7 linked regions of the Homo sapiens genome follow. The protein of the gene in region 5 interacts with the protein of the main gene of each other region in a pairwise test. Each region holds a gene or a part of one and is shown on either strand. Other genes may lie near its edges.

Region 1 (3,500 bases), on a different chromosome or scaffold from region 5:
TTTATGAATCTAGCTGCTTCACATCCTTGCTAACATTTCATGCTGTCAGGCTTTTAAATTGTGCAGTTCTGGAAGAACTAGTGTTTCATATGGATTTAATCTGCATTCCTCTGATCATAAATGAGGCCATTCACATAACTCCTTTTGTAAAGTGTTTATTCACATCTTTTGCTCCTCCTGCCCTTTTTTTGAGATTACAGCAGGATATGCCCATTATTTTTCATTGAATCATTTACCTTTTACTAGTGATTTGTGAGCGATTTTAAAAAAAGTATATTCTGGAAATAAGTCCTTTACAGATATATGTAATGAGAATATTTTGTCCTAGTCTATGGTTTGCCCATTTTCTTAATGGTTTCTTTGATGAACAAAAAGATGATTAATTTTGATGAAGTCCAGTTTGTCAATTTTTTTCCCTTATTAGTTACTTTTTGTGACCCTCTAGAGGAAATATTTGCCTGTCACAAAATAAAGATTATATTTCCCTATGTTTTCTTCTAAAAGCGTCAGAGATTTATCTTTTATGTCTAGGTACACAATCCATCTCAAATCAATATTTTTGTGTATGGTGTCAGCTAAGTTAGGTTCGTTTTTTTTCCTACACAGATCATCCAGTTGTTTCAGCACAAGTTCTTGAAGACTTTCCCCATTGAATTGCTTTGGCACTTTTGTTAAAAGGGAGAAAAAAGACTAACTGTATGTATGTGGGTCTACTTCTGGACTCTCTATCCTGTGCCATCAATATATTTGTATGTTTTTAAACCATTACCACACTGTCTTGATGAATATATAATAGCTTTGAATTAGTGTGAGCCCTCCAACTGATCCTCCTTTTTTAAAATTTTGAATCAATTTGTCACTTTCCAGAAAAAAACCTTTTAAGATGTTCATTGATACTGAATTGGATCTACAGATCTATTTCAGGAGAACTGACACAATCTTCATTTCTTCGTTTTTTAAGATATGAATAATTCTTTATCCCCTCTCTTGGGATACCTTTTAGAAAACAGTAGAGAACAAAAATTCCAAGCTAGAAATTTTGTTGTCCTTATTTGATAAAACTTTTTTAAAGCTTGTGGCAATGCCAGATTCAAGATACTAGAAAGAAGAAAATCAAAGTGGGCCATTTGCACTAGCTTTCACACAAGTAGTGTTTCTCTATTATAAAATGTTTTGCTAATGAGTATTAGGCCAAGGAGAAATGTTTTCCTTAAAAAGCACGTAAGAGACACCTCAATTTCCATACCTTTCTGTTATCCTAATAGTCTTTCAACATGAGGGAAAATAAATGCAATTTAATTTTAAAAGAAATCCTAAAAATTAAAGGTTAATTTGCTTGTAAAAAATTAGCAGCAATCAATTTAATTTGAGACTTACATTCTTGCTTAACAACAAATAAAATTCTGAGGTAAAATTGCCACACATTTGGATGAATTCCAGAAAATTCAATATACCTAATTTGCAATATATAATCCATCACACAGAGAAAAAAAATGCCTCAAATATTTATGGCAAGGTTTTTAAAAATGATCCTGAAGTACAAATACTATGTTTACTTATTTATATAGGGAATGTCTCTGGAAGGATACTAAAAAAAAGAAAAAAAAACCTGGTAATGAATGTCTCTGTGGAAATGCATAGGGACTGGTGGTTGGGGAGAAAGAGGACTTCTCACTATTATACTGTCTTGTACTGTTTGAAGTTTCATAAAGCCAGGTACATGTTATATACATATACATATACATACACATATACATAGAATCCTAAATTATGATAATCTTCAGAAATAATCTTCCCCTAAAGTCTAGGAAGAATAATTCAACTGAGAAAAAAATGAGAAAACCAAAAATTAAGTTACACTGAAATAATGTTCATTATGTAAATGTATGCTGAATTTAAAAGTTTAGTTTATCATACTAAAAGCTCCAATATTCTGCTTCTTACTCATTAGGTCTAAATTTTCATTTTCAGCTCAACCTTACCACAAACCTGGTATGTTTCACATTTAATCAAAGCAAGTAAGTAAAAATAGATAACCTTTAAAAATTAGTAATAAGTACATTTACAGAATAAGGCTCAACTCAAAAAATCTCTTTAAATTGTTATGACTTTAAAATATCTTTCCTGTTGAAGAATGCTGTTTGGTCAACAATTTTTTAAAGTCGATTAAATGTTCTTTGGTATGTAGATATAAATAGTAAATCAGTGAATGGATCTGTAAGTGCAGGCACACTAGCTATATGACTTTTCAACTAGTAAAGCAAAAAGGGAGACAATGTTTCAGCTTGAGTAAAATATTAATTATAATATAATAAATTTAGAGAGGTTTCTCTTTAATCATGGAACGGGAGAGAATAGAAAGTTAAACCCAAAGGTACAAAACAAAGTGTTACATACTACAAAAAATAAGTGGTAACTTTTGAATGAGATTTTAAAATATCAGGAATGTTTTACCATCATGAATTTTCTACTTTTTGCCAATTTTTCTGAAATATATTTATCCTAGTTATTGTATAGTGAAGCTGACCTTTGATAAAATGACTCAGGATGCCTATTTACGTGCCAGAGAAACAGCTTTCCCTTAGCATGGGGAAAGGCAAGAACTATTATCCAGAATCTCAAGTCAGAAACCTTGGGCAATGCCAAGTAGGACTACCTGAAAGGTCCTGGCAATCCCTGCACATCCCTTTAAAACTGAGCTGTTTTCATGGTTACCTGGTACACAGGACTTGCGGCTGCAGTCACCGAACTGGGTTTCACTTCCATTTCCTTACTTGTTTCTTCATCTGAAGAAGAGGATCCTGAATGATAATCAGAGGTAACCTTATCAAGGGCCCTGGTAACTTTCCTGGAGATCTCATCCTTGTTCTCATCTTTATTTTCAAAGCTGGCAACAATGAATGCATTGTTTTTCTCTCCATACCTAAGAATAAAATTAAAAACTTACAAATCTTGAAGTCACATCAGCAAAGCAAAAAATGTCCATAAAAACAAAGAGATCTGGACATGCCATCAATACAAGGCAAAGATTGAATCATCACAGAACTTGACCCTACACATTTAATATCCTAATACAGCTCAATGCCAGCAAGCAAACCACAGTTTTCTACTTCTGGTCTATTTAAGTATTCATAAACATAACCCCATTTTCTTTCCCTTATTTTCTTTCTACTAATTCCTAAAAAAAAAATTGTTTAAAACATCAAAAAAAGTCCATTGTTTTGATTACATTTTTGTATGTACCAATGAAATTGGTTGTACAATAAAACATTCTGATGTATTTTTATTTTTTTGAGATGGGTTTCACTCTGTTGCCCAGGCTGGAGTGCAGTGGCACAATCACAACTCACTGCAGACTCTACCTCCTGGGCTCAGGTGATCGATCCTCCAACTTCAAACCTCCCAAGAGGCTGGGACTACAGGAGTGTACCACCATGCTCAGCTAATTTATATACATTTTTAGAGACAGGGTTTCACCATGTTGCTGAGGCTGGTCCCAA
Region 2 (4,035 bases), on a different chromosome or scaffold from region 5:
TACTTTTATCAAATGAGGTTAGTATCTAAAAATAATAGATACAATTATTGGCAGAAATTTCTCATTAAAATAAAGAAATAAACATCAAAGGCAGGTCTGAACACAGAAAGTTTGCATCCTAAATCTTTTTTCATGGAGATCACAAATTCCCTGAAGCATCAAACATATATATATTCTGGAGATATATATATATATATATATTTTTTTTTTTGAGAGAGATATATATATATATATTTTTGAGATATATATATATATTTTCTGGATATATATATATTTTCTGGATATATATATATTCTGGACATATATATATTCTGGATATATATATCCTGGACATATATATATATATTCTGGATATATATATCCTGGACATATATATATATATATATTCTGGATATATATATATATATTCTGGATATATATATCCTGGACATATATATATATATATATATATATATATATATATTCTGGATATATATATCCTGGACATATATATATATATATATTCTGGATATATATATATTCTGGATATATATATATATTCTGGATATATATATATATATTCTGGATATATATATATATATTCTGGATATATATATCTATATATTCTGGATATATATATCCTGGACATATATATATATATTCTAGATATATATATTCTGGATATACACATATTCTGAATATAGATATAGATACAGATATAGATATAGATATATTCTGTAGTCTACTGCCCATTAGCTGAAGAAAACATGGTCACTGGCTCATATTTAAAGTAAGAGAAAAAAATTACTTCTCCTTCGGATACATTTGTCAAAGCTCCAAAGAAATAAACAATCTGTGAATAGTTCAGCACAATTATATATTTACAAAGCATAGTGGATTTAGTCTAACATTTTCCCACCTGGAAAAACTGGGCTTAAGTATCTCCGACAAACAAAAAGCAATACTGCGTTCTTCCCAATATGCCATGTCACCTTTGTAGCACTCACACACTTGCAGGGAAGGGACTCGGGGTTGGGGGTGGTTCTGATGTAGAAATTGCAGATGGAGAGCTGGGCTCTGGGGATGGAAATGGAGAGAAGCGAAAAAGAGCCTGGAGAAACGGCTGTCATATTTGCTCAGAAGAACCGCCAAATCAGAGAGCACAGAAGATTTCATTGGAGGAGCGCCTTCAACAGCAACTAATCCTGTCATACTGAAAGAAAATTGTAAATGTTCTCTCCAGAAATTGTCCGCCCATTGCAGCTAATCGAACACACACGCACGAATACAGACACGCTCTCCTGCTGTACTAAAGGCGCCAGGGCGCAAAGACCTAGGGAGCGCGCGCGGGCACACACACACACACACACACACACACAGACACACACACACTCACACACTCCAGGCTGCGGGTTGGCCAGAGCCTGGAAATCGCAGATTTCACCAGGAAATCGCCGAGGTACCCGAATAGGTGTTGCCTCCCAAAACTAATTCCTACTTCCCCAAGCACTTTGGTGAAGAAATGAATCCAGCCCAGCTCGCCGAGGCATCCAGGTCTCCATTCTATTTTGGTCTCCAGGCTCTTCGTGAAAGCCAGGTTTGAAAGTCTTGTTTGCTTCTCCTTTAGTGGTTTGGCGTGGAGGGCGGGGGCAGCGTCAATTTAACTCCAGTCTAAACCACGAACAGGTCACAGACTAGCCAAGTGGCTGAGACGAGTGTGGGGTGCGTGACTCTGCCTGCGCGCGCGCCAGCCCCGCAGCTCTCGCCAGAGCCTTGGGGTCGGTTCTCTCCCGCCTCTCCCGCCTCTCCCGCCCCACCCCTACAGTGTCTCGGCATCAACTAATCTTTTCCTTTTCTTTTGCAAGATCAAGGGAGAAAGAGAACCGGCAGCTGGCCTCGGACTCTAAGCGGTGCGCAGCTCCAGCCCGAGCGGATCGGCCCTGAACCCACAAAGGACTCCTCGCTCCTTCAAGCCTCCACCACCTCGCAGCCGGGGAGGCAACTGGAGCGAAACCAGCGACAGGTAAGGGCCCCGCGCTGTGCAGCTCTCCGCTTACCCACTCCAAGGGCCCTGGCACCAGGGGGTCTCTCCCTTCATATCCCCCCAAGCCGGAGGCTCAGGGGTCGGGGCTTGGGGGAATTGGAGGGAGGTCCTCCCCACGTGCAGATTCTCAAACGGAAACTTTGGATCCTGGGGCTTGGAGGGTTGCGAGCAGTGATGGCGGGTCTGAAAGGAAGGGGCAAACGAGGCACAGCGCGAGGCGAGGTACCCCTACGATTCCGACGGTCACTGAGTCCAGCCGAATGTGGCGAAAGCAGCCTGGGAGCTGCGCTGTCCCGGCGTCGCTCCCTATTCCAGCCCCCCATTCCCTCTACTGTTGCTGACCCCCCTCCCGCCACCCACTCCAGATGCAGCCATGGACAAGACAAGGAGAGCTTCGTCCCTCCCGCCCCTCGGGTTCCTTCCTGCTGGGGTCTGACCGCGTCTTCTGTGCGTGTGGGATGGAGGCCCGGCTCGCTCGGGCTCCGAGCTGTCCCCCGGCTCCGCTTTCGGAGCAGCCCTTGGGCGCTGGAGAGGTTTCCCATTGCGGTCTCCAGGTCATGGCCAAGGAGGAGAAGCAATTAGAATGGGGGAAAGGGTCCCAAGACAAAGGAGAGGGAAGCATTCTGCAATCCCATCCTATTTGAGCCCCGCGCAGGAGCTGGACTGTCCGCCGTGGCTGGGGGACAAGGTCTCAGCCCGAAGCTCATGAGGTACCAGACAGTGCCTGGGCTTCGCCACCTAACTCACAATGGGTCCTGAACCGCCCGGGCAGTCCCCGGGGTCGTAGACTGGGGACCGCTGCACCCCTCCCCGCCCGCAATGTCCCTTGGAGTCCGCACCTGAGGTCCCAGGCAATCGCCGCTAACTTGTAGCTCTCGGACACGGACAGGTGCGGTCCATGCCTGGTGCCGGTAGACGCGCAGAAATTCCACCTGTGCGCGCTGCCCGGCGCCCCTGGGGCCCCTCACGGGGTAAGTAGAGACTCATCTGGGAGAGGTGAAAATTCCCCAGAATTATTGACACACACGGCGGCACACCCTTTGCCTCCGTCCGCCTCCAGCATCCGCATCCCTTTCTCTATCTTCCTGCCCATTGCCGTCCTCGAGGCTGCCCTGAGATACAGAATTGTCCCAGGCTGAGTCCACCGACCCGCCAGTCCCTGGCGATGATGCCAAGGCTCTTGCATGTACGGAAATACCAGCAGGGAGGTTCGCCAGGGGCAGAGAGGCTGGAGGAGAACAGAGAATTGGAGGTAAACGCGTAAAGCCAGCAGAACTGTCGGTGGACATTTCACCCAGGCCGCCCTCCCGCGTCTTTAAGTCAGTTCACCGCCACAGCACGTCTGTGACTGCGGCCACCCAGGGCTCCAAGTCTGCCAGCCCAGGCGCCGCGAGCCAAGAAGAGCGCGGCGCCTCCCACTCCTCAAGCTCCGGAATCCCCCACATCGACTTTCTATTTCCCTGTCTTCTTTTCTTTTTTGTTTGTTTTGCTTTTCCTGCTCTTTTCTTAGCGCTGGGTGGCAGTGGGTATGCGGCAGCCGTGTGATTTGCCCATCCCCTAGTACACGCAGCCAGCGACACAAGCACACAGCGACCAGTCCCCACGCTGTGCCACACACCCTCCAGCGGTCCGGCGCGCAGCCCCTGCTCCACAGCCCGGGACGCCTGCAGCCACCGCCAGGGTCATGGCCATGGCCCACGCAGGGCTCTGCGGGTGGAGAGGGGAAGTCAGCCTAGACTCCAGAGAGAAACCCTGGGGCAACCCGAAAGGCCTGAGGAAAACTGGAATTGGGGTTAGGCATGAGGGGAGGGAGTCTCTGGGGAAAACGGGCCGGGCTGTGCGGAGCCCTGAGGGCTCCTGCGGCTGCAGCGCTGCAGGCCGCCCGCGTCTCGCCCCGCCCCGCCGCTGGGCGTCCCCGCCAGGAGCCCACCCGCGGGCGGCAGCTTTTCTCCATGCTGCCCAGGGAAGTTCGATGCCTGGTGCTGGGATGCGCCAGCGCTTCTGTTCGCTTC
Region 3 (3,500 bases), on a different chromosome or scaffold from region 5:
TTGCGAAGCTCTCACACAACCCAGACAGTGAACATATTTATCCCCCACTGAGGTTTCCTTTGTACCCACCTGCCCTCCTGCCCTCCCACACTCCCCTTCCCTCTCTCTCTCTCTCTTTTTTTTTTTGTTTGAGATGGAGTCTTGCTCTGTCACCCAGGCTGGAGTGCAGTGGTGCAATCTTGGCTCACTGCAACCTCTGCCTCCCAGGTTCAAGTGATCCTCCTGCCTCAGCCTCCTGAGTAGCTGAGACTACAGGCGCACACCACCACACCTGGCTAATTTTTTGTATTTTTATAGAAATGGGGTTTCACCATGTTGGCCAGACTGGTCTCGAACTCCCAACCTCAGGTGATCTACCCACCTTGGCCTCCCAAAGTGCTGGGATTATAGGCGTAAGCCACCATGCCCAGCCACCTCCCCTTCTCTCTCTCTCTATTGCCAGGACATCAGTGATTCTGCTTTCCGTCAGTATAGATTAGTTTGCATTATTTAGAGTTTTATACAAGTGAAATCATACAGTATGAACTCCCTTTGGTCTGGCTACTTGGCATAATTGTTTGGAGACTTGTCCATGTTGCTGTGTGAATCGGTCATTCATTCCCTATTCCATTGGACGGATATTTCACAGTTAACTTATCCATTTACTACTTGATGGACATTTAGGCTGTTAGCAGTTTTTGCCTACCACAGAGTAAAGCTGTAATAAACACTCACATACTAGTCTTTATGGGGACATATACTTACAATTTTCTTGGGTGAATACTTAGGAGTGGGATGACTGGATCACATGGTGAGTGCATGTATAACGTCTTAAGAAACTGCCAGTTTTCCAAAGTGGTTTTACCACACATTATGCATTGGAAACCACTGTACTTTCAGAAAAGCAGGGTGGGGTCATGATGTTGTTATGGAAAGGAAGCCAACAGGTTGGCTTTATAGGATTTATGAAAGAGGCTATTTTTTTCGAGAACCTTGGGGTGTGATGCTGGACAGGTTTCCTTGAAATGTACTCGCTAAGGGTATAAAAGGAAATGCCCCAGCTCAGGCACAGACTTCGTCCTCGAAGGCAGTCAAGCTGTTGTTTCTTTGGTTATGTAGGGGTGGGCTTTAAAGAAATTCAAAACACATGAAAATGACAACTCGAGATTTATTTCAGTCAGTTCCGAGGCCCTGTGCATTAGGGAACTAGAACTCATTTTCTTCAGTACACAAACCTAGGACTTCCTTTTCCTGCTGAAGTCAGGGTAAAGAGGAGAAAGGTGGGTTCTGGGGGCACCGGGTCTTTTAGGGAGGGGCCCCAACCCCAGTGGGCACCACCCAGCCCTCATGTTCTTCTTGCCACCTGGTTACTCAAAGGCCCTTTTCCTGGGGAGTCCAGAGCCCAGGGCATTCTCAAAGCGACCACTGTCCTGTTAGCTTCGGTGAGTCCCTTAGCTGATAGAGCAGGGGGAAGGGGAACCAGTCAGCAAAACAGGACTTGACAGACAAGCTGAATCAAGGGAAAGGGAGCTAATGTAGAAAGGATGAGCTGGGAAAAATGTAACAGCCCACCTGCCATTCCTCATTTGTGGATGGGAGATGTACTAATTATTGTCTAAGTAGAAAGAAAACAAATGCTAGAATCAGGTGACCCTCAGAGTCAAAGAAGTGAATGATAACTTCAAAGGAGAGGTTCATTCATTTCTGTGTGGACTACTCAGATGATTCTGAAATCTAGAATACTATATAGACTCTAACTCCTGCTTGGAATATTTTTTTCAGAAGAATAAGCAGATTTAAAATTTAATCTCCATCTTTTTGGCATTTGGTTGTTACTATTCGTTTACAAGCCAGTCCACTTTTTGATTTTTGTCCCTTTTCCAGGAGCAGGCTTGCATCTGACTGACCCACCATGACACCCACAGACTTCACAGTGAGTACAGCCGTGCTCCTCTGGCTCCTCAAAACACACACTCATCTTCCCTTTTTAGGGGGTGTGGGAAGGATCCACTGTGGGGGAAGGATTTATCTGTGTGGTTTCCCAGGGTAAGATCTCTGCCTGGCAATGCGCATTGCTGGGTAGGTTGTTGTCCAGCACAGAGGGTTTTGCAAATGCAAAGAGGCAGCTATGCTTTGGGGTATGTTGTGGAGACAGAGGAAAATGTGGTGTTATAAACAGCTAAGGATTTTTAACCATCTTTAACTAGGGTGTGCTTAGTTCCATATGCCTGTTCTAAAACTCAGACAAATGAGGCAAAGGGAGAATTCATGTAATTTGCTTTTAAAAAACCCATGGTGGGCACATTAGTTGTATTTCTTGCATAACATTATGTAGACCTTATGAAAACACGTAACAGTATACATTCCCCTGAAAGAGACCAAGAGCTGAGCAAAAATTAGTGAGTCAGTCTGGGCGTGGTAGCTCACGCCTGTAATCCCAGCACTTTGGGAGGCAGAGGCGGGCGGATCACCTGGCCAAGGCCAGGATTTCAAGACCAGCCTGCCCAACATGGCAAAACCCCATCTCTACTAAAAATACAAAAATAGCTAGGTGTGGTGGCATGCGCATGTAATCCCAGCTACGTGGGAGGCTGAGGCACGAGAGTCGCTTGAGCCTGGGAGGTGGAGGTTGCAGTGAGCCAAGATCACGCCATTGCACTCCAGCCTGGGCAACAGAGCGAGACTCTGTCTTAAAAAAAAAAAAAAAAATCAGTGAGTCAAATCATAATCCAGAGAATCTTTTTTTCTTTTACAGCCGAATGTAATTAAGTGTAGAATCAAATTAATTTCCCATGCTTTTGTAACATTCATAAATGCCTTATAAAATTACCTAAGGGCTTTGATTTTGCTCTTCTCCAAGGGAAAGCCTGGGTTTTACATGTAGATAATTGAAATCCAGACTTCCTAGCAGGCGGGCTAACAAACTGCCTCACAGTACATTGTGGGTTTCCATGATCTATGGAGAGTGGTGGTTGAAACAGTTTATCAACTAAATTATTTATGATATGCTAATGATTCATTAGTATTACATATGTATAGTTACCTAATTGCACCTATATCCATAACAACAAAAAAGTAATTAATTTGGTCCTGGTGAAGTAACTATTATTCTGACAAAAAGTAGACTCTTCAGTTTCTCCTGCATTAAATTCACCTTTCAATCCCTGAGGCTGTGGAAACAGAAGTAGATGAAGGCAGCAGAGCCAGGGCTGCTTCTGAGCTTGCCAGTCATTTGCTTTTATCATTTGGGATCTTGGATAATAGCCAACTCTGCAAAGCAGCCCCAGATAAGAAGGAAACTGCACCTCAGTAATGACCTGCTCTTGTCAGAGGAGTCTGGCGCCATCTAAATGGGAAGAAGATGGGACCCCTGTGGCCCTGACTCCCATATTCCATGGAAAGTAGCCGTGGCACCCTGTGGCCACCTTTCTGAGGATGTGCTGGGCCAGTCACCCATGCAGGTGCCCCACATTCCCTCAGCGTCACAGTAAAGGCAGAGTCCTTTTTACAGATGAGGAGAC
Region 4 (4,140 bases), on a different chromosome or scaffold from region 5:
CTCGCGAGCTCTGGGGACCCGAACTCCACTTCCGGGTTCCGCGCGGAGAACCCCACACCAAGAGCCCCGCAGCGCTGGCTTCTACTCGAGTTCCCTCCCATTCTCTGCCAAGAGGCTCCTGCCTCTCCTCCACCGCCGCCCCCGCAATCGCCCTCACCACCTCCGGCCCTCGGGGGAGGGTCTTGAGTTGTTTCCCCGAGAGAAGAAATCAGACGTCTTAAGCTTAATCAAATGTTTGCGATCAGAATTTGGGGTTACAGGCCTCGGTCCTGGGCGCAGTGGGGAGCGTCCGACCCCGGCGGTCCCCCGGAAGGGCGCTCTCGGAGGGAGACAAGCGCTGGAGCGGAATCAGGCAGGCGAGGCTGCTGGGCCAGGGCGCGGGGAGCTCTCCGAGGTGCTGAAGCCGCCCCAAGGTCCGCCCAGCCTGGGCGAGGCCCGGAGTCCTGAGGCTACGGCCCGTGCGGTTCCCAGCGACCTCTGAGATTGGCTGCCCGCTCTCCGGGATCTTGTCCCGGGCTCCGGCCCCGGCGACCTTGGGCAACCGACTGTCCCTCACAGGCGGCGGTGAACTGGCGGTCCAGGCTGCGCCTGGACTGGCGGCGCGTCCCATCCCAGGGCTGGGAGAGCAGGGGCGCGCCCCTTCCCCGGCCCGGAACGCTGAGCAGGCAGCCGAGCGGGTGCGGGCGAGTGGTCCGCGGTGGGCTCTTCTCTCCCCGGCCGAACCTCTCCAGTCCACCCGCTCCTGCGCTTCCCCAGGCCCCGACGGCGCCCCTCCTCGCGGGCGGCCCGGCCGGCACGCAGCGGCGCGGCTGGAGCTCCCGGCCCTCGACCCCGACGGATCCCTGGCGGCGCAGCCCGCCCCACCCACCCGCAGCCTCCCGCTGGGGTCAGACTCCCGCGCCTCGCGGCCAAACCGCCAGCGGGGCCACGCAGGGCGCTGAGGTCCCGGAGAGGCGCGAAAATAGCTCAGGGTCCCGGGAGTATGGTCAGGGCGGAGGCGGGAGCGCGGCCGGACCCAGCTGCCAGCTCCTTCCCCAGCCCGCGAGGGGGCGCCGCGTCCCCATGACAACGCGGACACCCCCACCCCCCGGAGGGCAGCGCCCCCTGCTCCCCTGCGTCGCTGGCCGTGGGCGGCGCCCTCTGTGCCCAAGCAGGGAGCTGCCGGCCAGCCCCCGAGAGGGGCGCGGACCGCCGGGGTCTCCGACGCCTCGGGTGTTGACCCCCGCGCGTCGCCGCCGGGTGACCGGCCCGGGGCGGGCGGCGCGGCCCCGCCACGATTGGCTGCTTCCTCGTGACATCACGCGGCTCGGGGAAAAGTGCGAGCGTGAGCGCGAGTCGGAGCCACAGCGCCGGGAGCTGCGGGCGGAGCAGGGGCCGCCCCTCGACACCCCGTCCCCGCCCCCGGCCCTCGGCCCGGCCGCCCGCCCCGCCGGCCCGCGGGGCCGCGCGTCCGTCCCGCCGTCTGTCTGGCGCGAGGGGAGCTGGGCAGAGGCGGCGGGTAAGTGGCTCCGCGGCGGCGCGGGGGCGGGGGGCTCGCCGGGAAGAGCAGGAAGCAGGTCCCCGGGACGCTCTGAGGCTCCCCAGAGGTGGGTTCGACTGGGACAGGGCGCCAGACCCCCTCCGGGGCGAGCGCGGGCCGGGAGCGGCAGTGGGCCGGGGCTGGGGGACCCCGCTGGAAGCAAGGCCGGGGGCTCTCGGAGGCTTCTCCAGGTGCGCCCGGGTGCGCCCGTGGGAAGGGGTGGGCATCCAGGATGTCGGGGGCGGGGGATTGCCCGCCCACAGACCCCACGGAGCCAGGGGCAGCCGTCGGGGGTGGGACCCTGTACTCCAGCCCTCCCACTGGCGGCTCAGCAGGGCGCCGGGCGCTGAAGCCCCAAAGAGCCCTTTTCCCGCCGTCTCCCCGCCCTCCCTCTCCCTCCACCCCTTTGCCCCCGCGCTGCCAGCCCACTCCGGCCCCTGGAGTCCTCCATCTACGACCTTGAGCCCCGACGGAAAACACCCCTGCCCTCCCCGACACCCCTCCCCCGCTCCGGTACTACCCCCCTTTGCTGCCCAGCCTCCAAGCCGGGGTCCTCCAGCTCCAGGCCCCCTCCTCCGGCCCCGCAACGGAAGTGTTGGGCACAATGTCGGTGCCAAATCTTCGCCTCTCCCTCCCTTGGACTCTGGAGTCTCCTCTCCCGCCCCAGGGACAGATCCAGGGGCCACAGCCTTCCCAGAGCCATGGAGTGAATGCCCAAGAACCGAAGACCTACACCCCAAACCACCCCACGGGCGTGCGGAGCACCCCCTCCGGTCTCGCCCGGGGAAGAGGGGTGTCGAGGACTCGGGAAACACAGTGCCCACGCCCAGAGGCTGCAGGAACTGCGTGCTAGGGGCTTGGAGGGAGGGCGGGGCACCCGAGAGCCAGGGCTCCTTCGACCACGGCGGAGACATGGAGGAGCCTCCAGATGGCCTAGGAAAACACGGCCCTCGAGGCCCGCCCGACCCTAGCGTGAGAAACTGGGTCCCCACTTTGGTCACAGGGGCTAGACAGTGCCTCTGGGGTAGGGTGCAGGGTGAGGAGAGAAGGAGGACAAGAGTCTTGCACTCGCCTGACCCGAGCTCTGTCCGGGCCTCCGCCTTGTGGGTGCACTGCGGATGCCCTCTCGCCGCGAGAATGGGCGGCTTTTGGCAATAACGCCTCTTAGGGGAGTTATTAGAGCTGAGCGTGCCTGGTGTCCCTCAAGGCCAGGTTGGGCGACTCTCGCAGAGGCCCCTCGACAGATGTCAGTCAGAGGCTAGGACTCTGCCACATCTTTAAGGACTTGGACACCTCTGGGCACCGGGCTAAGACGGCGTCCCAAAGTTAGGTGGCCCGTCGCAGGCAGCCCCTAGTAGTCTGGCCTCCTCGCCCGCACAACCCTTCACCCACAGGCCAGGTGCAATCCCGATGCAGGCTCCTGGCCCGACCCTCTACGCGCTCAGGCGGACAGCTAAGGTCTGGCTGAGTCTCCGGCAGGGGCGTTTGGAATGTGACCGGTCACCCACTCTCGGCCCTGCATTTGCTTGTGCATGCAAGTCCACAGGTGTAGAGGCACCCGAACCGTGTGCATCCTCCCGGCCACAGCACCCTAGGCACGCACACGCATGCACATGCACGTGTGCACACGGCGCGGCATGCTCACGCGCTCTCACGGGCGGACTGGTATCCAGGCGTGGCCGTGCGCACACACACGCACATGCATACAGCTACTAGCGTCTACTCGCGCTCCCCCGTAGGCACACACAAACAGAACTCGCACTCGCGCTCCCGCCCACACGTTCCTCGCAGGGTGCCGGGTGGAATCCGGGCTCCCTCAACTTTCCCACCCGAGAACCCCGCGCGGAGCCGAGGGCAGCTCTGGGGCGGCGTCCGACGGGGCCTGGCGAGGGGACCCCGCGTCACTTCCCCGGGAGGCTGTGCCTGAGGGCTCCTCTGGGTTCGCAGTCGCATTGGAGTTGGGGGCGGTGGCCAACGGCGGCCGCACGGTCTAGGTCCGGAGCGGGCACCAGGGACCGACATTGCCATCTAGCGGTGCGCACAGCCCCGGCGGCGGCGGCTCGCTCCCCAGATGCCAGGCGTATCTGGATTCCAGGGAAGGCGCCAGAGGGGGTCGGAATGTCTGCGGGTGACCCCGAGGTGTCCAAAACGACGACAGCTGGGGCGGGGCGGAGTCGGGGAGACCCTGAGCCTCGCCCTGTCAGCACCTGGCAGCTCCCTCACGCGGGCCAAGAGCAGGACTTAATCACCGGCCATCCAGTGGTCCCGGCTCAGCCCAGCCGCCAGGATCTGGGAGAAGACAAGACATCGCTTGTCTTCTGGGAAAGCTAAGTCGAGAAGCCAGCAGGAATGTGAGGGGACCCTACCCAAGCCTCACCTGGACAGTCCCTCAGTTGTGTGGTTTTCGGGTCGAGGGGAGCAGAGGCAGGAGGTCAACTCTGAGCAGTAGCACCTTGGACTTTAAGAAGGAGCTTCCCGGGTTCTTCTGCCCCCACCCGTACTTCCTAACCTGGTGACTTTGGGCCAGTTGATTAACATTATCCTCATCTATAAGAGGATATTTACATCTGTAAGATGAGGACACTAATAATACCTGCCTTTTCAGGCTGTTGTAAGGATTA
Region 5 (3,500 bases):
TAGCCACCTTAGCTTAGAAGCTGCATGTAACTGGTATCTCTATCTCTTGTAACTGTCCCATGGACATAGTTTACAGCATTTTAGCAAAGAATATGCCTAGTTAGGAGAGTCACCATACTTAGCCCTAAGCTTCCCACCAAGTAGTTATTGTCATTTGCTGTCCTCCCAATCTGGAGGCATTTTACCAATTGGGGGTCAGTTTTATCAATAAACTCAGTGGCCTGGTAACACATTCGACATTCCACCTTCATCAGGTTTCCAGGGAAACAGAGCTTGAAAGTTACCCCAAAGTCAAATGTGGTAACAGAAAAGGTTTTGTTAACTTTTTTTTTTTTTTTTTTTTTGAGACAGAGCCTTGCTCTGTTGCCAAGGCTGGAGTGCTGTGGCACAATCTCTGCTTACTGCAACCTCTGCCTCCTGGGTTCAAGCGATTCTCTTGACTCAGCCACCCAAGTAGCTGGGATTACTGGCGCCTGCCACCATGCCTGACTAATTTTTTTTTTGTATTTTTAGTAGAGACTGGGTTTTGCCATCTTGGCCAGGCTGGTCTTGAACTCCTGACCTCAAGTTATCTGCCCATGTCGGCCTCCCAAAGCACTGGGATTACAGGCATGAGCCACTGCACCTAGCCAACCTTTTTAAGTTCTTGTCCTTTATTATCTTTTTTTTTTAATTTGCCTCAATAAAGACAGGTAAGTGAAAGTTGGTTTTGCCTCACTCCTATGGTAAAACAGGGATCAGTTTTTGACCAAAACATCAGTCATCCTGTCCACCCAAGTGGTTTGTCTTTTATGAGCCTCCTGTGTAAGGGCAGAGAAAGTTATAGAAAGATGGGTATTAATCAATTCAAAGAAAATAAGTAGAAAGCTCATGCCTGAGGTTTGGCAGCTCACCATCACAGGCCTTTCAGAAATGGACAGGCCCCTCCAGTAGGTCATTCAGCAGGTCAGGCTTTCTCTGGATTGAGGCTGAGGGGAACAATTTTTTAAATTCCGGAGCTTAAAAACCCCCTGGTGAATTTTCTGAGCTTTTCCATCTCAGAAAATGGGGCATTGCCTCCCTGGCCTACATTTATACAGAGACTTTCAGAAGAGGCTATGTTAGGGTAGAATTTGGTAAGAATTGGAGTCAGTTTGGGCTGTGGTGGACTGCAATCACATCCCTCCTTGTCTTCCATAGATCAAGGACACCTTCCTGAGGACTTACACGGACGCTATGCAGACTTACAATGGCAATGATGAGAGGAGCCGGGCAGTGGACCATGTGCAGCGCAGCGTAAGTTCCAGAGGAGATGAGGGTGTGAACTAACTATGAAGTCTAGGCTTAGACTTATGGACTGCCTGTAGGTTGGCCCAGTAGTTGCTATTTGTTCCCGTTCTTCAACTCTTAGTCCAGTTCCATTGCCAAGAGTTGACACCCAGTCCTTGTCCAGGCTCCAGTTATTCAGGTAATTAATGTCAAGGAGGACCACTCCCTTGAGTGTGCCTTGTATCAGTAAGGGTTGCAAGTATGGCAAGGACAGCTCATTTGCTCTTCAGATCTGAACCCTTGTGAAGGAGTTAGGCAGTGAGTGTGTGACAACCTTGCTTAGAGTTGGCTCCCGGAGGCTGGCTTTCTGGAATCGATGTCTTCAGGCTGGGTGGAGAGCTCAGGCGAGCTGCATTCACTGGCTGGGGCAGTGGAGTGGGCATAGAGTGGACCTAGAAGAAACTGAGGCTCTGTTAGGTATGTGAAGGTGGTGAGCTGCCTGATGCTTTGCGGAGGATATGGGGGAAATAGAAGAGAGATTTCCTGTCTGGGTGGCAAGTGCTGGCACTCAAGCATAACTGCCCATCAGGAATCACTAAGGGGGATTTTGCTTTGGTTTTTCTTGGTTTTGTTTACTTCAGAAGAAGTCTTTTTTCTAATTTATTTTGATAAAAGTTCCAACATATACAGAAAAGTCTCAGGAATACTACAAGGAACTGTATACTCAGATTTACCAATTAATTATATTTTTGCCCCGTTTGCTTTAATATTCTCTACATTGGGGTTGGCAAACTTCTTCTGTAAAGGATCAAATAGTAAATATTTTAGGCTTTGAGGGCCATAAACTCTGTCACAACTACTCATCTCTGCCACTGTAGCACAAAAGCAGCCACAGACAGTATGTGAACACATAGTTGTGGCTGTGTCCCAGTAAAACTTTATTTACAAAAACAGGTAGCTCCTGGGCTATAGATTACCAGCTTTGGCTCTCCCTTTCTGTATGTGCATCTTTTTTTCTTAAGAACTATTTATTTACTTATTAGTAGATATCCCAGGGGAGAGTTTTTTGAAACCATATTTGCCTCAACTCACCAATCAATAGTCCTGATTTAGTGGATGAGTACATCTATATCAATAGGTGATTGTGAGTTGGACACAGACGCACTGCTTTGCTTTGTGGAGGTAATAAGAAAGCCAATGTGATATATAATTTAGAACTTCCTTCTTGGAGATCAAACAAGCATCAATATGGGTATAATTGTTATTGGAGCTTCCATTCATCTTGACTCACCAAAGCTGCACATGTTGTCTTAGGGCTTTTGCCTGTGTTTCTCTTATAAAAGTCACAAGGCAGTGATTGAGGAGACCACATTTGATCTGCCATTTTTTTATTCTTTTCCTTTCCCTGTTAATAGCTGAGCTGCTGTGGTGTGCAGAACTACACCAACTGGAGCACCAGCCCCTACTTCCTGGAGCATGGCATCCCCCCCAGCTGCTGCATGAACGAAACTGATTGTAATCCCCAGGATCTACACAATCTGACTGTGGCCGCCACCAAAGTTAACCAGAAGGTACCCGCTTTCTCCTGGCCCAGATGGGACCAGTGGTGAATGTTTGGGGGGGCTTTTTTATTTCCATGAAATTATGACAAATAGATTTGAAATAGTAGTCAAGGGAAAGAGAATCTTACTTTGTGGTTCCTTGATTGCCTGGGAGAGGCACTTGAGGCTGCTCACTTCTAAAAGAGAAAGCTGTGACTCAGATCAGCCTTGTCTTTCTCTCCCACAGCAAGGATCTACCAGGCATAGTTAGGAAGGTTTAGCAAGCAGTTCCTGTTAACCCTGATGCTTATGTCAGACAGCGAGTGTTGGCTTTCTTCTTTTGGGGTGTCCGTCTTCTGCTTAATATACCATCTAAACATGAAATTGTTTGCAGCTGGGTGTCAGTTTTTGACAGCAAGAGGGGAGTAGAGTTGACAGACAGCATCTGCTTCTGCTAGGAGGGTGGCCTTTATTTTAGGGAGTTTACTGCCATAGGAAAAGAAATCAGCAACTCTGATTCAACTCACTGTCAACCTCCCGACTCCCAAAGAAATTAGAGAGGGGAAAAAAGAGGACTAAACGAAATTTAAAAGTTAGTACATAGTGAAAATGAGGGAAATGAAGTTTTAGTAGTCAGAGAAGAGGAAAATCAATTCTGCATTCCATTTTACAGAGAATACGATGAAGACATGATATAACTGCATGTGAAGA
Region 6 (3,965 bases), on a different chromosome or scaffold from region 5:
CAAGGGCGCACACTGGGGACTGGGCCTGGAGGGACAGCCGGGGAAGCAGGAGGAAGGGCAGGAAGGACAGCAGGAGGAAGCAGGAAGAAAGGGACAGGAACCAGGCCCGGGATGACAGCAGAGAAGGACCAATGCCCAGCCAGGGCTTCCTCACGTGCCTCTGGGTAGAGAGCCCTGGTCTGGCTCAGGAGGCCCAGGCACTGGTCTCAGACCTGCCACCACCTGTGTGACGCTGGGCCAAGCGCTTCCCTTCCCTGGGCGTCCGTTTCCACCGCTGTAAAGTGGGGAGGGGTGAAACTGAAGCTCTCCCCAGCCTATCCCAGCCGTTGAGGAGGGAGAGGCTGTGGTCAGGGGCTGTGGGGCCCACGTTGAGGAGACGAGGCTCCTGCCCTCAGGGTGGACAGGGCCCAGGAAGGGGGTGCTCTGCACCATGGGGGCGCAGCCTGGGCCTACGGGCTCCCCCACCATGAGCTCAGAAGGAAGATGTCCGCTGAGGAGTTGGGGGCCAGGGAGAATATTCTAGACCAGATAGGGGTGGTCTGGGTAGGCTTCTGAGGGGGTGGGCTTGGAGGAGGGGCCGGTGGCCAAGTCGGGGGGAAGCAGGGGAGGAGCCAGCCTGCCTGCGTGTGCCTCTCACCTGTGTGCATTGGCGTGTGCATGTGTGTGTGCATGTGTGCCAGCGTGTGTGTGTGTATTGGAAGGCGCCCACGGAGCGTGTCTGCATGAACCAGGATGAGTGTGCGTGCTGCACCCTGTCTTGGGGCTGGGCATGAGGCGCTGGGGAGGGCGAGCTGACCGCAGACCCTGGGAGGGCTGGGCCCTGGGAAGGTTTCCGAGATGACAGGGCAGAAGTGGGCTGGGGAGGAGGAAGGCTCCGTGGGCGGGGCTGGAGCGTCTCTGGTTTTGCTGTCTGTCTCTCACGCTGTTTCCAGAACAAATGTGTGCCCTCAGCAAGGATGCTGGCTCTTCAGAGGTGTCAGCACAGGCAGCCGGCACCCCACTTCCCTCCCAGAAATCCCCCACGCCCTCTAGCTGGGGCTGGTGCAGGAGCAGTGGGGAACTCCTGTTACCCCTGACCTGCTGCCGTCAGTCAGCCGCCCGCCCCCCCACCTTAAGGAGGGGCAGAGTCAGGGACCAGCCCTGAGGGGTGGCTCACCCCAGCTTCACTTCCCCCAGCCCTTCTCAGACAGCCACTGTGCAGGCTTTGGCAGCGGGGGTCACACACTCCACCCGGGAGGCCAAAGCTGCCTGCAGGTCAGTGCCGCCCACTGCCCTAGGGGCCTCCCAGCGGGGCAGGGGCATGGTGGGGGTCTCAGAGTGGGGTGAGGCTGTGATGGGGTCTCAGAGCAGGGTGAGGCTATGATGGGGTCTCAGAGTGGGGTGAGGCTGTGACGGGGGTTCTCAGAGCGAGGTGAGGCTGTGACAGGGTCTCAGAGCGGGGTGAGGCTGTGATGGGGGTCTCAGAGCAGGGTGAGGCTGTGATGGGGTCTCAGAGTGGGGTGAGGCTGTGATGGGTGTCTCAGAGTGGGGTGAGGCTGTGATGGGTGTCTCAGAGTGGGGTGAGGCTGTGATGGGGGTCTCAGAGTGGGGTGAGGCTCTGATGGGGTCTCAGAGTGGGGTGAGGCTGTGATGGGTTCTCAGAGCAGGGTGAGGCTGTGATGGGTTCTCAGAGCAGGGTGAGGCTGTGATGGGGTCTCAGAGTGGGGTGAGGCTGTGATGGGGTCTCAGAGTGGGGTGAGGCTGTGATGGGGGTCTCAGAGTGGGGTGAGGCTGTGACGGGGTCTCAGAGCGGGGTGAGGCTGTGATGGGGGTCTCAGAGCGGGGTGAGGCTGTGATGGGGGTCTCAGAGCGGGGTGAGGCTGTGATGGGGTCTCAGAGCGGGGTGAGGCTGTGACGGGGTCTCAGAGTGGGGTGAGGCTGTGATGGGGGTCTCAGAGTGGGGTGAGGCTGTGATGGGGGTCTCAGAGCGGGGTGAGGCTGTGATGGGGTCTCAGAGCGGGGTGAGGCTGTGACGGGGTCTCAGAGTGGGGTGAGGCTGTGACGGGGTCTCAGAGTGGGGTGAGGCTCTGATGGGGTCTCAGAGTGGGGTGAGGCTGTGATGGGGTCTCAGAGTGGGGTGAGGCTGTGATGGGGAGTCTCAGTGAGGTGAGGCTGTGTTGGGGTCTCAGGTGGGCTGAGGCTGTTGGGGTCTCAGGGGTGGCTGAGGCTGATGAAGACTTGGAGCCTGTGTCTGGGTAGCAGCTTGTTGGAGTGTGGGATGTGACATTTAAAAACAAGAATGAAGAATACCCCGTGCTGTGGCCCCGAGGTGAGCAGCTACTTTGGTGAACTCGTGTCACTCACAGCCCCATCCTGGGTCCTGGGGTGTGGTGTGCTGTGTGGGGCCCAGGCCCAGTGGGGTCACAGGTACGGGGGACTCTGGTGCCTGGGCCACAGGGATCTGCACCTCACTGCGTGCCCCCACGTCTTCAGCAGTGGTTGGGGCCTGTGGTCTCAATCCCAGGCCAGCCAGGCACTCTGGGGTCTGGGCGGGTCCCGGGTCCAGACAGGGGGAAGGGCTGGGGAGGGGCTCTGGTGTGGCTGGATCGCCCGTCTATGGCCAGGTTTCTCTCCTGGATCACTCAGTGCAGAATCAAAGGGCACTTTTCTGCTTTTGTGTGCAGAAGCCGAGGGTGACCTTGTCATCAGAAGGGGAAGCGGGGCCTCAGAGGCGTGCTGCTGGCTCCAATCCCCAAAGCCTCCTGGGCAGGAAGTGGAAGGGCCCCATCCCCACGGTCCCCGGCAGCGGGAGCTCCCTGAGGCTGATGGTGCTGGTGTCTGTCGAGGAAGACAGGCCTGAGGAGCTGAGGCGGGAGGCCAGCTACGGTCCACGGCCTGGACACAGATTCCTGTGCGGGACTGGGGCAGTAGGTGGGCATCTGTGCTGGCCATGTTAGCTCCCAGGGGCCCCATGCCATCTGGGCTAAAGCCTGGGCCTTGATTTCCTGAACTTTTCTGGGAGGCACTCCACGGGCGAGACAAGGACCCATGAACAGGGCACTTCTTCGAAGCCTACGTGCACCTCGAAACTCTTGCAACATTTGCATTTTTCTCCCTAATAGTTCAGTGTTTGTTTTATTATAAACAGGAAAATTTAAATGTTGTAGTTAGAGTTTTTTTCTTCTTCTTAGAGATGGGGTTTCACTCTGTCTCCTAAGGCTGGAGTGCAGTGGTGGGATCATAGCTCACTTCAGCCTCAACCTCCTGGGCTCAAGCCGTCTTCCTGCCTCAGCCTCCCGAGTAGCACGCATCACCAGCCCAGCTAATTTTCTGTCTTTTTTTTTTTTTTTTTTTTTTTTTTTGTAGAGACGGGGTCTCCCTGTGATGCCCAGGTTGTTCTTAAACTTCTGGCCTCAAGTCATCCTCCTGTCTCAGCCTCCCAAAGTGTTGGGATTACAGGCATGAGCCACCGTGCCTGCCTGCAGTTAAACATTCCCCCACAAAATACTGGGCCACACCGAGGCTAGTATGAAAGTTGCAGCCCTGGGTATGTGTGACCTGAGAGCCCCTTGGCAGCCATGGGGAGCGATGGGGGAAGCTGGGGCAATGGGAAGGGGTCTAGGCACACGAGCCCTCGGGTCCTCACCTCCCACGAGGCAGGGTCCCAGGCTGCCTCTACTCAAGGTGGGGCAGCAAAAGAATCGCCCTCTAGCTGTGCAGACCCCCTCCCCCTCCAGGTCTGCACACCGCCCAAGGCTGGCCCTGGACTTCTGGTGGATTCAAGTACTCAGGTGGGGAGAGTAGGAGGCCAGTCGCACGGAGCCCTCCCCAACGCACAGTGCCTGCCCAGCTCAGGTGCCTCTGAGGTGTAGATTCTGAGCAGGTTCTGGGATCTCCTGGCCCCCAGCGGGGGCTGCCACAGGAGTATAGGCCCAACAGGAAGGGAAGATCCCAGCGATTGGTTCCAGTGGGTTCTGGGGATGTCC
Region 7 (3,500 bases), on a different chromosome or scaffold from region 5:
CATTCTTTGGACAATTGCAAAGTTGTTGTTTCTTATTCTTATTTTTATGCTGAGGAAACAAACCAAGACAGGTGACCTGACCAGTCCAAGGTCACTCATGAGGTGGTAATTGGGCTGGGACTTAACACTGGCAGTCTGAATCCCCAAACCACCTTCTTCTTTTGTTTTGTTTTGTTTCTGAGATGGAGTCTCGCTCTGTCAGCGAGGCTGGAGTGCAGTGGTGCAATCTCAGCTCACTGAAACCTTCGCCTCCGGGGTTCAAGCGATTCTTCTGCTTCAGCCGCCCGAGTAGCTGGGACTACAGGCATGCAACACCACGCCCAGCTAATTTTTGTACTTTTAGTAGAGACAGGATTTCACCGTGTTGGCCAGGCTGGTCTCGAACTCCCGAGCTCAGGTGATCTGCCAGTCTCGGCCTCCCAAAGTGCTGGGATTACAGGCGTGAGCCACCACCCCCGGCCCTAACCACCTTATTAACCACTAAGCAGCTTTGTCTCCCCTGTAAGGGGAGAGGGAAAGACTCACTAAAGTTCAGGTAGTGGCAGGGCAATGTCCAGTGCCCAGGTCATCTGATTCTCAAGCTCTGGTAATTTCCATTACATTGAGCCACAAAAAATAGTCCACCTTCCAAGTAGTAGAGTTTCTTTGCTCCCCCAAAGATCGGCAGTTTTGGTATTTTACAATCTACCTTAGATCTCTGGAAAATCTGATTTTTGACACAGATGATTTCATAAAATGAATGCACTCTTTCTTCCTTCTCAACATTTCAAAATAATTTATGAAAATGACAGACTGAGAAATTACCATTTTGGATAACTTTTTGCATTGTTCAGAGGACTTTCACATAAGTTATCTTATTTGAACTTCATGAGTGGTAGCAGGTCTATAAGACAGGTGGGCTGGATGTCTTAACCACACTGAACAGCGATAAACCTGGGGCAAAGGGAGGAGCTCAAAGTCACATGATGCCAAGAGCAAAATTGAGCCTTAGTTAAAAACATATTGTCTTTCAAGTGCTGGTAGACATTCTGGAAGCTTTGAGAAGCTAAATAAGTAATAGTAAATTAAGCTGGGAGAGCTGAGATAGGGGATCATTGAGATCTGGGTTTTTTGTTGTTGTTGTTGTTTGTGGGATAACTTAGTAGTTAAAACTCTAGACTCTGGTCTGGAATTGCTTTGGGCAGCTCCTCTTTCCTATGCCTCAGTTTCTTCATCTGTGAAATGAGAATAATTGCAGAACCTCCTGATAGCGTGATGTGAAGGTGAATGAAGTAATGCACGTGAAGGGTTAGGTTCTTGGTCTGTTATAAAAATGTGCCATTGCTTTCCTTCTGCTTCTTCCCCAGGATCCCTTTCTTCTGTGTTAAATGGGCCCCTCTAAAATCTATGGGTATAGTTTTATTTTTTGCTCCAGGGGTTGGTTTAGAAACTTTTGGTAGGAGATTGTAGACAGCAGCCTTTGGGGAGGTGACATTTTATTAGTCTAGGAAAAATGTAGATTTTGCTTAAGAATTTTCACCTAAGAGGCTGTAAATAGCCTATGTCTTTTGAGATTGCACTGGCATGTTTAATTGGATATGATCATTAGCACATGATATCTGAAATGGAGAATTCTGTATAAATGGTTTCCTAATCCAGGAGGTTCAGAAGAAATAGCACAGAGTGAGGACAGCAGAGGTAAACATGCCTGCAGAAACCTTTCTCTTGGCATGCAGAGCAAATACTATAATCCAGGTGTCTCAGCCAATGAGGCATTTAAACAGATACAGAAAAATCATTAAAGAGGATTTCAGAAGGGTATGCTCACCTGGACAGATTGCACTCCATCCTTCCAGTGTCTCCTGAACTGCTCTCCAGGAATCATTTTCATCAGAATCACTGGGGCATTTATGATTCAAAAATGCTTTGAATGTGGCAGTGCCTGAATCTACAGTTTTCCATGTGATTTTTAGATATACTAATGTTTGAGAACCACTGCTGTCAACAGCATAATTCTGTAAGATTCAAAATACTAGTTGTAAAGAGTTAATTTAGCTGAAATGCAAATTTTGATTTGACCTGCTCCCAATTCCAGACCTCTGAAATCAGTAATGACAAGAACCTTTGGGCATTTTCAGGCTCAGTCTTCAGAGGCTTATCCTATAGAGAAGAGGAATAATTTCTGTAGCCACATCCCAAAGTAGGGGAGATGGGCCACTAGGTACACAGCTGCCTTTGTGAAGAAGCAGAGTAGGAAATATCTACCCTGCAATGATTGGGGCACAGGAAAGCTGGAATCCACCTTATTACAACAGCTGGTTAATGTCATACTGTGAACTCATTGAGCACCTGCTTTGTGAGTATTCATTTTCTATTTTTAAATTTTGCATCAACCTTGTGAGGTTTTTGGTATGTTTATCTCCATTATACAGATGAGGCTGCTGAGGCTAAGAGAAGTCAAGTAATTTGCCCAAGGTCATATTGGTAGTTAATAGAACTAGGACAGATTCCAGGGTTGTGGTTTGAATCAGGGGTTGGCAAACTATCTGGCCCACTGCCTGTTTTTGTGTGGCTTGCAAGCAAAAAAAAAGATGTTTACATTTTTTAATTGTTCAAGAAAATCAAAAGGAGAATAATATTTTGTGACAAGTGTAAATTACATAAAATTCAAATTTCTATGTCCATGTATTTAGTTTTATTGGAACACAGCCATGTCCATCATTTATGTATTGTTAATGGCTGTTTTCATACTACACAGCAGAGTTGAGTAGTTGTGACAGTGACCTTATGCTCTTGAAAGCCTAAAATATTTGGTAAATAGCCATTTACAGAAAAAAGTGCCACCTCCCACTTGAACCATTATGCCTGCATTTCTCAAACTTCAGCCATTTGAATTCTACTCCTTCATGATTCTTGCCACCTTTTCATACCATCTGGAACATTAACTGTGTGACATTTTTCTTTAGATCAATTAATTTTCCTTAAATAAATTTATTTTATAAAGAAACAAAAATGAAAGCGAAAACCAGTACCAATTGCAAGAAATAGAAGAAAACTGTAAAAACAAATACAATATACCAAGAACAGTGTATTCATATTAGATTTCAGCTAAATAGCTGGAACAGACAATGTTGGTGTTGCTTCATTTCCCTGCAGATCCCCTGACCATTTCTCTGTAAGCCATCAGACTTCCAATGATGGACCTGAAACATTTTTGGAGGGCTGCTCTCAGTCTACTGGAATCCCCTTTGCACACAAGCACAATAAATTGGGGGTGCCTGAGAATCCAAGTTCCACTGTGGATAGCTCTAACCAACAAATTGTGGGTGCGGGAGTATCCACATCCCACCTTCCTATCCCCTTGTCTGGAAGAATTCTGAGGCATATGTTTTACACCATTTCCCAAAGCTTCCCTGTGAGATTAAGCTTCAGTGTCTTAATAACACACATCTTATTGACTGTGTCTTATTCCATTTTTTATATTATTATTCCCCTATCAGTGTACTGGCACCTGCCAAATT

Evidence for each region.
Region 1: the proteins of TSPAN7 (region 5) and BTG3 interact in a two-hybrid assay, tested with the Homo sapiens proteins (one large-scale study listed by BioGRID and IntAct).
Region 2: the proteins of TSPAN7 (region 5) and CHRM2 interact in a two-hybrid assay, tested with the Homo sapiens proteins (one large-scale study listed by BioGRID and IntAct).
Region 3: the proteins of TSPAN7 (region 5) and CCR9 interact in a two-hybrid assay, tested with the Homo sapiens proteins (one large-scale study listed by BioGRID and IntAct).
Region 4: the proteins of TSPAN7 (region 5) and CHRM4 interact in a two-hybrid assay, tested with the Homo sapiens proteins (one large-scale study listed by BioGRID and IntAct).
Region 6: the proteins of TSPAN7 (region 5) and GPR35 interact in a two-hybrid assay, tested with the Homo sapiens proteins (one large-scale study listed by BioGRID and IntAct).
Region 7: the proteins of TSPAN7 (region 5) and HTR4 interact in a two-hybrid assay, tested with the Homo sapiens proteins (one large-scale study listed by BioGRID and IntAct).

Annotation. Positions count from the first base shown.
Region 1 is NC_000021.9:17,595,902-17,599,401, forward strand, and holds part of BTG3 (protein BTG3), read right to left. Parts: intron 2,924-3,500; coding exon 2,716-2,923; intron 1-2,715. UniProt on the Homo sapiens protein: Overexpression impairs serum-induced cell cycle progression from the G0/G1 to S phase.
Region 2 is NC_000007.14:136,867,417-136,871,451, forward strand, and holds the start of CHRM2 (muscarinic acetylcholine receptor M2), read left to right. Parts: upstream 1-1,235; 5' UTR 1,236-1,576; intron 1,577-1,668; exon of another isoform or gene 1,669-1,757; intron 1,758-1,829; exon of another isoform or gene 1,830-1,844; 5' UTR 1,845-2,002; intron 2,003-4,035. UniProt on the Homo sapiens protein: The muscarinic acetylcholine receptor mediates various cellular responses, including inhibition of adenylate cyclase, breakdown of phosphoinositides and modulation of potassium channels through the action of G proteins.
Region 3 is NC_000003.12:45,893,043-45,896,542, forward strand, and holds part of CCR9 (C-C chemokine receptor type 9), read left to right. Parts: intron 1-1,174; exon of another isoform or gene 1,175-1,259; intron 1,260-1,863; 5' UTR 1,864-1,891; coding exon 1,892-1,912; intron 1,913-3,500.
Region 4 is NC_000011.10:46,388,977-46,393,116, reverse strand, and holds the start of CHRM4 (muscarinic acetylcholine receptor M4), read left to right. Parts: upstream 1-1,340; 5' UTR 1,341-1,586; intron 1,587-4,140. UniProt on the Homo sapiens protein: The muscarinic acetylcholine receptor mediates various cellular responses, including inhibition of adenylate cyclase, breakdown of phosphoinositides and modulation of potassium channels through the action of G proteins.
Region 5 is NC_000023.11:38,673,042-38,676,541, forward strand, and holds part of TSPAN7 (tetraspanin-7), read left to right. Parts: intron 1-1,179; coding exon 1,180-1,275; intron 1,276-2,663; coding exon 2,664-2,819; intron 2,820-3,500. UniProt on the Homo sapiens protein: May be involved in cell proliferation and cell motility.
Region 6 is NC_000002.12:240,624,315-240,628,279, forward strand, and holds the start of GPR35 (G-protein coupled receptor 35), read left to right. Parts: upstream 1-1,165; 5' UTR 1,166-1,254; intron 1,255-3,965. UniProt on the Homo sapiens protein: G-protein coupled receptor that binds to several ligands including the tryptophan metabolite kynurenic acid (KYNA), lysophosphatidic acid (LPA) or 5-hydroxyindoleacetic acid (5-HIAA) with high affinity, leading to rapid and transient activation of numerous intracellular signaling pathways.
Region 7 is NC_000005.10:148,644,528-148,648,027, reverse strand, and holds part of HTR4 (5-hydroxytryptamine receptor 4), read left to right. Parts: intron 1-3,500. UniProt on the Homo sapiens protein: G-protein coupled receptor for 5-hydroxytryptamine (serotonin), a biogenic hormone that functions as a neurotransmitter, a hormone and a mitogen.